Homo sapiens: one gene and its partner. Each later gene encodes a partner of the first gene's protein in a complex. Each region holds a gene or a part of one and is shown in the gene's direction. Other genes may lie near its edges.

Region 1 (7,019 bases):
CGTCTCTACTAAAATTACAAATATTATCCGGGCATGGTGGTGCGTACCTGTTAGTCCCAGCTCCTCAGTGGGGGCTGAGGCAGGAGGATCACCTGAGCCTTGGGAGGTCAAGGCTGCATTGAGCTGTGATCCTGCTACTGCACTCCAGCCTGAGCTAGGGATTGCCACCCTGTCTCAAAGAAAAAGAACTTGTGGCAGAGTACTTAATGAGAAGTGTACTGGAATGGTGATTCCACATTTACTATAGTCATATGCTAAATTGTGCTTATTGGACTAGTGGATCACAAATATTGGCCATCCCATACCTACTAAACATTCTAGAACCCCTACTTTTCAGAAACTTCCCAAGTAATATAATAGAATGACTAGCTAGGTTTCGAAAGCAAGAATTAAAGACTTAATTCCCCAAGGCTGAAATCTGTACTGTCATCTTAGTAGTTTTCTGCATTAGCAAATCTAGATAAATAATGTGAGAATTGTTTTTTGTTGTTGTTGTTGTTTTGAGACGGAGGACGGAGTTTCACTCTTGTTACTCATACTGGAGTGCAGTGGCATGATCTGAGCTCACTGCAACCTCCGCCTCCTGGGTTCAATCGATTCTCCTGCCCCAGCCTCCCAAGTAGCTGGGATTACAGGCACCCGCCACCACGCCCAGCTAATTTTTTGTATTTTTAGTAGAGATGGGGTTTCACCATGTTGTCCAGGCTGGTCTTGAACTCCTGACCTCAGGTAATCCACCCGCTTCGGCCTCCCAAAGTGCTGGGATTACAGGCGTGAGCTAGTGCACCTGGCTGAAAATTGTTTTTGAGACAGGATCTTGCTTTGTTGCCCAGACTGTGTTGCAGTGGCACGATCAGAGTTCCCTGCAGCCTTGACCTCCTGGGCCAAGGAATCCTCCTGCCTCAGCCTCTGGAATAGTTGGGGCTACAGGCACACGCTACCATACCTGGCTAATTTTTGAAAAATTTTTTTGCTATGTTGTCCAGACTGTTCTTTAACTTCTGGGCTCCAGTGATCCTCCCACTTTGACCTCCCAAAGTGCTGGGATTACAGACATGAGCCACCGTGCCTGGCCCTGTTTTTGTTTTTTAAGATGAGGATTACTTACAAGCAAGCAGCCCTGATGCAGTGTTTACTTTTGTGTGTGTTCTTTTTCTGGTGTTTACCCAGATCCGTTTCCCCCCTTTAAAAAGAAAGAAAAACCACGGTTGTAGTTCTGTAACACTGTCCTCTCCTTCATTCTTTTTCTGGTTCTTGTCTAACCTTCTACATACAGGTAATTCCAATTTTCTGTTCATATCTCTCTTCATTTCTTTTCAGTGTAATGTAGAAGCTCTCAGAGCTTTGCCTGTGACATCTGTGCAGAAGAATTCCTATTGATATCTTTAGACCTCACTTCTCCAGAGCTTTTCCTGATTTTTCTTCTGCCTGCCCGTGTCTTCCCTGGTATATCTTACTGGCTTCCCCAGTTTGACATGTTGTAAATGGAATTATTCCTTACGTGAAGGCCTTACCCCAACTTTCTCTCCTGTTGTTCCTATTTCTTTTCATCATAATTGGCTTTAGTTTGACATTTTCTCTTTCTCCATTTTATAGGCAGTCAATTTATAAACCCCAATGAATTCTGGTTGTGTAGCATCTTTCCCATCTAGGCCAGGGGTTCTCAAAATTTTATATGCATCATAATCAGCTGGAGGTACTGTGAAACAGTTAGTTGTGCCCCACCTTCTAGAGTTTCTGATTCAATGGGTCTGGAGTAGATGTGAGAATTTGCGTTTCTAACAAGTTCCCAGATGATGTGGATGCCCTTGACCCAGTATGGAGTACAGAATGCCTTAAGACGGCATTCAGAACACTAAATAGTCAGTTTTAATCGGCCTTCTCTCCCACTGTGCTTTCCCATATCAGAAGTCAGATTTGGACTTCAGCATACTTGTTACTTAGTAGCTGTGTGATCTTAGGCAAATTGTTTAATTTTCTTTCTTTTATTTATTTTTTTCTTTTTTGAGACAGGAAGTAGTCTTTCTCTGTCACCCAGGCTGGAGTGCAGTAACACGATCTCTGCTCACTGCAGCCTCCGCCTTTCGGGTTCAAGCGATTCTTGTGCCTCAGCCTCCCAAGTAGCTGGGATTAGCCAGCCGCCGGTTTTTTTTGTTTTGTTTGTTTTTTGAGACAGAGTCTTGCTCTTTCGCCCAGGCTGGAGTGCAGTGGCACCGTCTTGGCTCACTGCAACCTCTGCCTCCTGGGTTCAAGCAGTTCTCCTGTCGCAGCCTCCTGAGTAGCTAGGACTACAGGCACCGCCACCACACCCGGCTAATTTTTGTATTTTTAGTAGAGACCGGGTTTCATCATGTTGGTCAGGCTGGTCTCGAATTCCTGACCTCAATTAATCCACCCTCTTCGGCCTCCCAAAGTGCTGGGATTACAGGTGTGAGCCACCATGCCTGGCCCAGCTGCAGGTTTTTTGAGGTCAGGAATCATGTCTTAATTGTCTTTGTACTTCCATCGCGTTTGGAGCGATGTGTCCATTGATAGGCGGTTAGTAAATGTTTGAAAAATTGGTTTATGTTATTTACTCTTCTTTCCCTTTTTTCATTCTTTTCAATTTCTTTGCACCCTTTCCCCTTCTTTCCTTTTTAATGAAAGTTTTAGTAAGCAAAATTATTAGCATACCCAACAATGGTTTGCTTTCCCTCCAACCTGTTGGTAGTGAGTGAGTAGTTAATTCACATTTTATTCCATAAAACGTTTTACTTTTTCTCCAGAGTAATTAAGTAGAAAATATGGCTCTTGGCCAGGCACGGTGGCTCTTGCCTGTAATCTCTGCACGTTGGGAGGCTGAGGTGGGTGGATAATTTGAGGCCAGGCGTTCGAGACCAGCCTGGCCAACATGGTGAAATCCCGTCTCTACTAAAAATACGAAAATCAGCCAGGCATGGTGGCAGGTTCTTGTAGTCCCAGCTACTCGGGAGGCTGAGGCATGAGAATCGCTTGAATCCGAGAGCCAGAGGTTGCAGTGAGCCAAGATCGCACCACTCCATTCTAGCCTGGGCGAAAGAGTGAGACTCTATTTATAAAAAAAGAAAGAAAGAAAAGACCCTTAATGACTTTTTCCCCTCTCTTAAAACCTGGTTGTATTAGTGACTTTGACATACATGTATATTGTTGACTTCGCCGTCTCCTGATGTTACTAATTTGAACAGTGACTATATATTGCCGTTACAGACCAGAAGGGAAAGATTTCAGCATTCATCGACTTGTCCTGGGGACACACACATCGGATGAACAAAACCATCTTGTTATAGCCAGTGTGCAGCTCCCTAATGATGATGCTCAGTTTGATGCGTCACACTACGACAGTGAGAAAGGAGGTAGGAATCTTAAAGGTGAAAGAAGTAAAGATGTGTGGGTCATATCTGTTATGTGCACTTTGATAAAGTAAACTCTGACTTTAGAAACAATATTTAAGGTTGAGGGAAAGCCTGAGTTTGCAATGGTAGGTATTTATATTTATATTAGAGTTTTAGGTATCAGAAGAAATACTTAACACATCCTTGGTTCTGTACCTTCACAATAAACTTTTCTCAGCTGGTGCTGGTGGGGAGGATTTCTGCAATTGAAAGAAGCAAAAATATATATTATTGCTGTACATTCTTGATTTTTTATTTTTTTACTCAGTCTCGCTCTATTGCCTAGGTTGGAGTGTAGTGGCACGATCTTCTCTCACTGCAACCTCCGCCTCCCGGGTTCAAGCGATTCTTCTGCCTCATCCTCCTGAGTAGCTGGGATTACAGGCGCCCGCCACCACGCCTAGTTAATTTTTGTATTTTTAGTGGAGACAGGGTTTCACCAAGTTGGCCAGGCTGGTCTTGAACTCCTGACCTCAGGTGATCCACCCACCTCAGCCTCTCAGAGTGCTGGAATTACAGGCGTGAGCCACTGCACCCATCCATATTGCTATACATTCTTAACACGGGAGATAACTACCCCTAAGGAGGTGAAAATTGGTTTGTGTATGTGAGTAGGTGTAAATAATCTTACTGGTTGATTGTTTAAAGCACAGATATGCACAGAGGACATAGGATATCTATGGTATTAAAATTTCATGGGACTGGTGGGGAGGGAATAGTTCTTAAAAGAGTTCTTAGAGGAGCAATAGTAAAAAAAAAAAAAAGGTTGAGAAACACTAACTTAAATTACCCTTTCTAGGTTTAAAGTGGTAGAAATGACTTAACCATGGCACTCTCTATGTGTATAGAAACTAAGTTCCAATGAGTTGTTTAATTATATCCTGTTTTTAGGCCATAACCTAAGGGTTTAACTGCTCATGAAATGCTTAAACGCTTTCCTTTTTTTTTTTTTGGAGATGGAGTCTCGCTCTGCTGCCCAGGCTGGAGTGCAGTGGCGCGATCTCAGTTCACTGCAACCTCCACCTCCCAGGTTCAAGCGATTCTCCTGCCTCAGCCTCCCAAGCAGCTGGGACTACAGGCATGCACCACCACGCCTGGCTAATTTTTTGTATTTTTAGTAGAGACAGGGTTTCATCATGTTGGTCAGGCTGGTCTCGAACTCCGGACCTCAAATGATCCTCCTGCCTTTTGTTCTTGTTACTGAGGCACAAATACTCTGATTGGTAGTGTGATAAATTGTAAAACTACATATATGTGTGTGTATATATTTATATTGTGTGTGTAAAATTATATGTGTAATTTTACACAATATAAATGTTATATTTATATATAAACATACGTATATATGTATGTATATGTAAAACTACATGCGTGTATATATTGTGTGTAAAATATAGTTATATATAATTTTAGATAATATAAATGTATTATATTTATATATAAATATATAAATTATATATGTAAAACTACATGTGTATATATTTATATTGTGTGTAATATATATAATTTATATATACATATAAATTTTATATATATAAAATATATGTAATTTTACACACACACAATATAAATGTATACACACACATATATGTGGTTTTACATATATATGTAATTTTACACACAATGTAAAAAACGCACCCCTTCTCCCATATAATAAACCTTTCCCTGGCCGGGTGCGGTGAGTCACTCCTGTAATCCCAGCACTTTGGGAGGCTGAGACCAGTGGATCACTTGAGGTCAGGAGTTCAAGACCAGCCTGGCCAACATAGTGAAACCCTGTCTCTACTAAAAATACAAAATTAGCCATGTGCAGTGGCACGCACCTGTAATCCCAGCTACTCAGGAGGCTGAGGCAAGAGCATCACTTGAACCCGGGAGGCAGAGATTGCAGTGAGCCGAGATCTCACCATTGCACTCCAGCCTGGGCAAAAAAAAAAAGGGAAACTCCGTCTCAAAAACAAAACAAAAGAAAAACCTTTCCCCTGGATATCACTTAAATGGATGTATTGTGATGTATTGTTTTCTGAAGGATTTATCCTGTGTATTGGATCACTCATTCAACAAATATGTTGAGTAATTTTGTATGCCAGGTATAGAATATGCAATATAGGTTCATAATTTGCTTTTATGGCCTAATATATCTGGGGCATGTATCTTTGTTAGTAGATGGAGACCTGCCTCCTTTTGATGGCTGTATAGTAGACCATAATTAACTATTCCTTACTGATAGACATTTAGATGGTTTCTAATTTTTTGACTTCAAAAGCATAGTTTTGCTATAGAAATACTTTCTAAGTAGAATGTTGTATCAAAGGGCAGGACCGTTTTTTAATATAATTGATACTGCTAAGTTGCACTCCAGAAAAAGATTTGAAGTCCCACAACAGCGTATGTATTTATGTCTGTTTCTCCATGCCTTTGCCAACACTGGACTCAGTAGAGTTCATTCTCAAGTTTACATTGCTTTTTTTATTTGTGATGTTGAGCTTACATCTCCTGTTTATTTATGTTTTTTGCCCGTATTTCCTTTTGAGTTACCTCTTCATATAAGGTAAATTATACCTTCTCCACCCAATAAATAGGTGCAGATCATTTTCTTGTTTAACTTAAAATCTTAAGTCCTGTTATTGGTTAGAAGCTGTAAGTTGCTTTTTTAATGGAGCCTTGCTCTGTCACCCAGACTGGAGTGCACTGGCATGATCTTAGCTGACTGCAGCCTCCTTATGGGCTCAAACGATCCTCCCACCTATGCCTCCCAAGTAGCTCTGGCTACAGACATACACCACCATACCTGGATTTTTATTTTATTTATTTATTTTTTTTGAGTCGGAGTCTGGCTCTGTCGCCCAGGCTGTAGTGCAGTGGCGCAATCTCTGCTCACTGCAACCTCCGTCTCCCAGATTCAAGCTATTCTCCTGATTCAGCCTCCCAAGTAGCTGGGATTACAGGCGCCCACCACCACACCCAGATAACTTAATTTTTTTTTTTTTTAAGAGATGGCATGTCACTATGTTGCTCAGGCTGATCTGGAACTCTGGCCTCAATCTTCCCACCTCAGACCTCCCATTCAATGATTTCATAAAGTATGTGTTCATCTATTGTTGTCTTCTGGGACTTTTATGTTTGGGCCATTAAAACTTTTGTCATTCTGGTATTTGGTATGGAATCAGAATCCAGCCTTTTTTTCCTAAATGATTGAGTTTTTGTTGTTATTTTGAGGCGGAGTCTTGCTTTGTCACCCAGGCTGGAGTGCAGTCACACAATCCCCGCTTACTGCAACCTCTGCCTCCTGGGCTCAAGCAGTCCTCCTGCCTCAGCGTCCTGAGTAGCTGGGATTGCAGGCATGCGCCACCATGCCCAGCTGATTTCCATTGTATTTTTTGTAGAGAGTAGGTCTCACCACGTTGCCCAGGCTGGTCTGAAAACTCCTGGGCTCTTGCAATTCACCCACTTTGGCTTCCCAAAGTTCTGGGCTTATAGGCATGAGCCACTATACTCAGCCAAAAAAATTTTTTTATTCAGTCAACCATTGATGGACACTTGGGTTGATTTCCGTATCTTTGGTATTGTGAATAATGCTACAGTGAACATACAAGTGCACGTGTCTTT
Region 2 (7,037 bases), on another chromosome or scaffold:
CGACACGCTGGAAGGGACGGCCCAGACAGCGCGTGAGGGTCCCGCGGCTGCCGTGACAGAGGACCACGGAGGGGTGCTGAGAACAGCAGACATTCATTCTCTCTGGAGTTCTGGAGGCCGCAGTCCAAAATCCAGCTCCCTCAGGGCCTCCTGGGGCGACTCCTCACCTCTCCAGCTTCCAGTGGCTGCCGGGGGAACTCGGGCGCATGGGCATTACCCGTCTCCGCCTCTGTAATCAGATCACCTCCTCCTCTTCTGTCTCTCAAATCTCCCTCTGTCTCTCTCTTATAAGGATGCTTGGATTTGGGGCCACCTGGGTAATACAGGATAATCTCCTCATCACAAGATCTTTCATCACATCTGCAAATACCCTTTTCCCAATAAGATCCCATTCACACGTTCAGGGATAAAACACAAACATCTGGCCTGGTACGGTGGCTCACGCCTGCAATCCCAGCACTGTGGGAGACCAAGGCAGGAGTGTCGCTGAAGGCCAGGAGTTCAAGACCAGCCTGTGTGACATAGCAAGACCCCATCTCTACAAAAAACTTTTGAAACTAGCCAGGCATGGTGGCGCATACCCGTAGTCCCAGCTACTTGGGAGGCTGAGGCAGGAAGATTCCTTGAGCCCAGGAGTTCAAGGCACAGTGAGCTCTAACCACACAACTGCACTCCAGCCTGGGCAACAGAGCAAGACCCTGTCTCAAACACAGATCACAGCACACACACACACACACACACACACCACACACACACAGCAATCAGACACATAAGAGCATAAACCACACACAGAGACTCAATGACACTGACACCAGCAAACACCAACACACACAAACACATGCATGTAGTTGGCCAGGCACACAGACACAAAGGTATGTAACAGCATGCCCCCATACAAAGATGTCATTACACAAATACACAAATACTAGCATGCAGACACACAACGACCTCCTAACACATAGAAACACATGGGACACGGCACATCCCCGGTGCACACAAACACACTGTATTCCACGACACCCTGGCATGTAGATGCTCACAGAAAACAGCCGTCCCTCACCAGCACCCTGACACTGAGACATGCCGCAGCCTGGACACATGGATACTGAAATCCAGACACATCGTCCCCAGGTACCCTGAGGTCTAGTCGCCCAGATGCTAAAATACAGACAGGCATTGGTCTCACCTAGCATGGGACACTGTCATATCCTGACACGGCAATGTCCAAACAGGTCGCATGTATGGACACCCAGACTTACACAGGGAGAGCTGACGGCCTTGGCTGCACCTAAGGGGACACACACTGACCCCTCAGGAAATCCTGCTGGTCCCGTCCCCAGGGTGGGAAAGGTCAACAAGGGAAGGACGTGATGACGCTAGCCTCACAGGGAATGCCCTCCCCTTCCTCCTCGGGTCACACAGGCTGGTGTGCACTGGCCTCTCTGACTCAGATTCCCGAAGGAAGGATTGACTGACTGCCTCTTCTATAAGAGCCAACCTCCAATCTCCATGTGAGTGCTCTGCACCAGCCTTGAGTGAAGCAGATCCCAGGCCCCTTTGAGGAAAGGCAAAAATCTTACTGCCCAACCCCCTAGCAGTGCCTCTGAGCTTGCTCCACGGGGTACAGGGAAAGGGGCCGACTGGGCCGGAAGGGCCCCAGCGAAGGAGGCACACCTGGTAGTTCCATTTCCTGACTAGCAACTTCCAGCCCACATCAATTTTAAGGAGTCCAGAATATTTGTAGTATGCAAAAAGGGGCATTACGAAACTTTTAAAAGTCTGTTTTAATTATAAAAGTAATATATGCACATGGTTTTAAAAAAAATGCTGGCTGGGTGCGGTGGCGCATGCCTGTAATTCCAGCACTTTGGGAGGCCGAGGTGGGTGGATCACGAGGTCAGGAGTTCGAGACCAGCCTGGCCAGCTTGGTAAAACCCCGTCTCTACTAAAAATACAAAAAATCAGCTGGGTATGGTGGCACGTGCCTGTAATCCCAGCTACTCAGGGGGCTGAGGCAGAATTGCTTGAACCCAGGAGGCGGAGGTTGCAGTGAGCAGAGATGGCGCCACTGCAGTCCAGCCTGGGCAACAGAGAGAGACTCCATCTCAAAAAAAAAAAAAAAAAAATGCTCTATGGGCACAAGATGAAAACCCAGAGTCTCCTTGACTCTTCCCTCCTGAGGCCTGAGGCCTTCCCTGGGAGATGGGTGCTGTGAACAGGTAAGAATGGCCCTCCTAAGGCCAGGGGCAGTGGCTCACGCCTGTAATCCCAGCACTTTGGGAGGCCGAGGTGGGCGGATCACGAGGTCAGGAGATTGAGACCATCCTGGCTAACAGGGTGAAACTCCGTCTCTACTAAAAATACAAAAAAATTAGCCGGGCGTGGTGGTGGGCGCCTGTAGTTCCAGCTACTTGGTTGGCTGAGGCAGGAGAATGGCATGAACCCAGGAGGCGGAGCTTGCAGTGAGCCGAGATCGCACCACTGCACTCCAGCCTGGGCTACAGAGCCAGACTCTGTCTCAAAAAAAAAAAAAAAAAAAAATGCCCTCCTAGCCAGAGGCGGTGGGTCACACCTGTAATGCCCACACTGTGGGAGGCTGAGGCAGGAAGATGGCTTAAGCCCAGGAGTTCAAGACCAGCCTAGTCAACACAGAAAGACCTCGTCTCTATGAATACTTTAAAACTTAGCCAGGTGGGGTGGCACACACCTGTAGTTCCAGCTACTTGGGAGGCCGAGGTGGGAGGATTGCTTGAGCCCAGGTGGTAGAGGCTGCAGTGAGCCAAGATCACACCACTGCATTCCAGCCTGAATGACAGAGCGAGACCCTATCTCAAGAATAAAAAAAGAACGGAGAAGGAGAAAGGAGAGGAGGGGAAGGGAGGGGAGGAGAAGGGAGGGGAGGGGAGAAAAAGAAAGAGAGAGAAAGGAAGGAAGGAAGGAGAAAGGGAGGGAGGGAAGAGAAGGAAGGGAAGGAAGGAGAAAAGGAAGGGAGGAAGGGAAGGGAAGGAAGGAAGAAGGAAGGAAAGGAAGGAAGAAGGGAGGGAGGAAGGTAAGGGAAGGAAGAGAAGGAAGGGAGGAAGGGAGGGAGGGAAGAGAAGAGAAGGAAGGAAAGAGAAAAGGAAGGAAGGAAGAAGGAAGGAAAGGAAGGAAGAAGGGAGGGAGGGAGGGAAGGGAAGGAAGAGAAGGGAGGGAAGGAAGAAGGAAGGAAGGAAGGAGAGAAGGAAGTAAGAGAGGGAAGGAAGGAAGGCAGGCAGGCAGGCAGGCAGGCTCTCCTGGGGGAGATTCTTGTGGGTCCTGTGCCAGTCCCGTGTGGTGCCTCCTACCAGTCCTCTTTAGGAGAGCCAACCTTTCTCTGTCTCATTCATTCCCAAGTCCTGTGCTGTCAGTGCCCCGCCACCTCCAGACCACTCAGCCCACACCGGACCCCAGTGCCCCCTGCCTGCAGAAGCCCAAGCTGTGGGGCAGAGAAGGCCCTGGCACTGGTTCAGAACCACTGCCCCCAGAGCTGGGAAAGGGTGACCCAATGGTCAGTGACCCCAGTAAAACCCCATGGCCTTAAGCCGCCAGGCACCTCCGGGGGTCAGTCGCAAAAGTGGTCTCAGGGCCAGTTGGAAGAAGGCTGAATCCTGCGCTGCCGGTGCACGGCCCCCAGGGCCAGAGGTCAGGGTCCCGAGCCCAGAGACCACACTCGCCGCGCGGGCCAGGATGCGGCGGAATCAGGTCGCCTCAATCCGTGCGCGCCGGACTCCGGGCAGTGCCTAGCGCCCCTATCGGGCCTCAGTTTACCCCACTGTCCAAAAAACGTCCCCCGCCCCAGGACGGCAGAACCGGCTACTCTGGACTGCGGGCCCGGCCGACGGGGGCGGAACCGCGGAGCGGGGGAACCACAGGCCAGCGCCGGGCCCCCGCCCCCGCCCCCGCCCCCTCCCCGCCCCCTCCCCGTCGCGGAGCGGCCGCGGGAATAACGCGAGAGTTCGCCCCCTCCCCCCCGCAGTAAAACTGTCAAAGGTGGGAGGGGCGGGAGCGCGCATGTGCGCAGCGCGGCGCGCAGCCTGCGCCGCCCGGACCCAGCGCCCCGCGCCCCGCGCCCCCCGCCCCGGCCCGGCCCGGCCCGGCCGCAGCCCCGCTGGGCGCCGCAGGTAAGCGCCCGGCCGCGCCCCGGACCCATTCTGGCCGCAGCCCCGGCGCCCACCGCGCCCCGGATCTCGACCCTGCGCGCAGGCCAAGGAGGGGGCCGGGCCCGGAGCCCCCCCGCCCCCCGCCGCGCCCGAGCCCCCGCGCCCCGCGCCGGCGCCGTCTTCCTGCCTCCTCCTTCTCCAGAAAAAGTCGCCATTTTGGTTCACTGCCTTCGCCCCCCCACCCCGCGCCCGCGATCGGCCCTGCCCGGCCAGGCCGAGGCCCGCGCCCCGCGCCCGCTCCCGGCCCCAGGTGACAGGTGGGTGGCGAGGCTGGCCCCAGGTGCGCGTCCCTGGCCGCGCTCACCCGCGCGCCAGGCCTGGGCCGGGGTCCCGGGCCGAACGGCCTACGCGGCGGACCCGCTGCTGGCGTCTCCTGCGCGCAGCGCGGCGGAGCCCCCTCTCCCCGCGAGGGCTCTGTGTCCCCGCTGGGCTCGGGAGGGCCGAAGCCCCTTCTCATCCGGGGCGCCAGTCGCGTCTCTGCCTCCCAGGCTGGCCCTGGCCTCAGGCCCCACTATTCTGAATTCTTCTCCCAGGCTTCAGAAAAATTGGAAGTGGGGCCTCAGCAGGCACCTGCACCCCAGGCCACCGGGGTCATCAGGTGCTGGGATGACTCATGCCGGCCCTGTCTCCTTTCAAAAGTTGCAAAGTGAGGACTTCCAGAGAACTTTGTCCCCGGACACTGGCCTCCCCCTTGGCAATGGGCAGTGACTGTCCTGACCTCTGACCTCAGCTCTCTGGCCCTCCTGGACACAGCAGCCCCTTCCCATCCCCTCGGATCCAAGTTAATTAGAAGCTATCAGGAGGGGGCCACCTGCCCACTCAACCCTCACCCTGCTTCCTGTCCCACCCCCTTCCGTGGCTTTTCCACAGGGCTGGGCCCAGAGTCTCCTCTGCTCCCCAGCTCTCAGGATGGGGTTCCCAGCAGCACAGGCCCTCGGGGGCCCCAGCCTTGGGCAGCAGGGCGTTCTCTCTGGCCAGCATCCTGGGCCTTCACTGCTGGTGCTTCCACGACTTGTTTGGCTGAAGTGGTAGTGGTGGGTCTGTAGGCAGAGGACTGAGAGGATCCAGAGAGAGGTGGGGGGCGGGTCAGCCTGCCAAGCCTGGAGACAAGTCTGCGAAGAGCATCAGGTAGGATAGTTCAGCCGGCACAGGGACGGGAGCTTGGTGCAGTGCCAGATTGGGCCAGGGGTCCTCAGTGCCCACCTTGGCTGTTTTCCATCTGTGTCTGGAGAGAAGATTCCAAGGGTACCTGCCTGGGTAGGCTGGCATTGCATCAAGTCAGCATGGGAAGGTATGAGGGCCCCAGTGAGAAGCTGTGCCCCCACTGCTGGGCCTGGGCAGCTTGTGAGCCAGCAGCCATCATCAGAGACATAATTGGCCCCTGGAGGAATGTTGCCAGCCTCCTTCCTCCTGCGCAAGGCACCTCTCCCAGGGGCACACCCCCTCCCAGCACTGGGTAGGAGTGCATCACCTTCGGCATCATCTTCGCAGCTGTGGGGCTACGCACACTGTGGAGCTGCGTACACTGTAGAGCTGCGTGTTGGGAAGGGGGTCTGGAAGTTGGTGAGGGTCTCAGGACAGGACTAGATCCTATCAAACTGATGATGACTCCTGGGTTATCTGGGGAGACCTTGGCTGGCAGCCCCTCCCCTAAGTCAGAAGCCCCCATCACTTGCTTTTCCCACGTGAACAAAACCACAGGAAGGCAGGCCCCTCTTCCCTGACCAGAGAGGACCTGCCAAGGGCAGGGCTCCAGGGCAGCCTCACCACGTGTTCCAAGTGGGGCCCGTCAGGCTTCACAGATTGTCTACTTGCTCTGCAGAGATGACGGATCCTTTCTGCGTTGGAGGCCGTCGGCTCCCGGGGTCCAGCAAGAGTGGTCCCGGGAAGGATGGCAGCCGAAAGGAGGTCCGACTTCCAATGCTGCATGACCCACCGAAGATGGGTAAGAGGAGTCAGGGCCAGAGTCAATTCCAGATGGTTCTGGGCAGCAAGTGGTAGGAGTGGACCATTGCCCTGGGCGTCCTGTCTCCAGGTACCCAGCTAGGCCCCTAGAGTTCCCAAGGACCTTACCAGGGTAGGGGTTGCCTTGGACATAGCCCAGGGTCCTGGGTTCTTGTCCTCAGCTGGCCGCAGCCCCTGCCCCCGGTGCCCTCGTGTTGGGACAGCGGTGCTCACTGTGGGCCTGTGCAGCCGCCGGTGGTAGGCGGTGCTACACAGCTTCCGAGCCTTGCTGTGTTGTGTGCTGCAGGGATGCCGGTGGTCCGTGGTGGACAGACAGTGCCCGGCCAGGCCCCTCTCTGCTTTGACCCGGGAAGTCCAGCCAGTGACAAGACAGAAGGGAAGAAAAAGGGGCGGCCAAAAGCCGAGAACCAGGCCCTCCGAGACATTCCTGTGAGCTCCCTCAGGGCCATGGTGGGGCTCATGCTGGGGTCTCCCTATCCAGCCACTGCCCTGCCCTGATTTGTCCTCTGCACATCTGGTACCAACTCTATGCCTCAAGATGTGGGCACTGGCCTGGCAGACTTCACGTGGCCTGGCTTTGTATCTGATGTGCCGGGAGATTCGGGGGATCGCGTTGGTGGGCTCCTAGAACGGGTCTTGTGCATGGCCCCTGCCAGGTGGCTTGAATTCCCACTGCAGTCCCGAGGTTGAGGGGCTCATGTGGTGTGTGTGCCCTGCAGGCCCGGGGGGGCTCTGAGTCTGGGGCTCGGGCTGGCAGTGGCCCAGGTGGCTGCGGGTCAGCAGCACCACCTTTCCCCACGCCTAGCTCTCCCTGATGAACGACTGGAAGGATGAGTTCAAGGCACACTCGAGGGTGAAGTGTCCAAACTCAGGGTGCTGGCTGGAGTTCCCCAG

What was found. The genes of interacting proteins can lie anywhere in the genome.
Region 2: the proteins of RBBP4 (region 1) and ZNF512B are in contact, whole or in part, in a crystal structure (PDB 8TX8), measured with the Homo sapiens proteins. Residues at the interface, in NP_005601.1 of Homo sapiens: Ala39, Leu40, Glu41, Trp42, Pro43, Leu45, His71 (codon at 3,272), Thr72 (codon at 3,275), Ser73 (codon at 3,278), Glu126, Asn128, Arg129, Pro145, Glu179, Tyr181, Glu231, Asp248, Glu275, Asn277, Asp318, Glu319, Phe321, Thr338, Lys376, Glu395, Asn397; in NP_065764.1 of Homo sapiens: Lys419, His420, Arg421, Arg422, Lys423, Gln424, Pro427, Lys428, Lys429, Phe430.

What each region holds. Positions count from the first base shown.
Region 1 is NC_000001.11:32,654,202-32,661,220, forward strand, and holds part of RBBP4 (histone-binding protein RBBP4), read left to right. Parts: intron 1-3,225; coding exon 3,226-3,371; intron 3,372-7,019. UniProt on the Homo sapiens protein: Core histone-binding subunit that may target chromatin assembly factors, chromatin remodeling factors and histone deacetylases to their histone substrates in a manner that is regulated by nucleosomal DNA.
Region 2 is NC_000020.11:63,966,916-63,973,952, reverse strand, and holds the start of ZNF512B (zinc finger protein 512B), read left to right. Parts: upstream 1-4,022; 5' UTR 4,023-4,029; coding exon of another isoform or gene 4,030-4,139; intron 4,140-4,295; exon of another isoform or gene 4,296-4,435; intron 4,436-4,583; exon of another isoform or gene 4,584-4,711; coding exon of another isoform or gene 4,712-4,824; intron 4,825-6,000; coding exon of another isoform or gene 6,001-6,002; coding exon 6,003-6,123; intron 6,124-6,429; coding exon 6,430-6,572; intron 6,573-6,948; coding exon 6,949-7,037. UniProt on the Homo sapiens protein: Involved in transcriptional regulation by repressing gene expression. Associates with the nucleosome remodeling and histone deacetylase (NuRD) complex, which promotes transcriptional repression by histone deacetylation and nucleosome remodeling.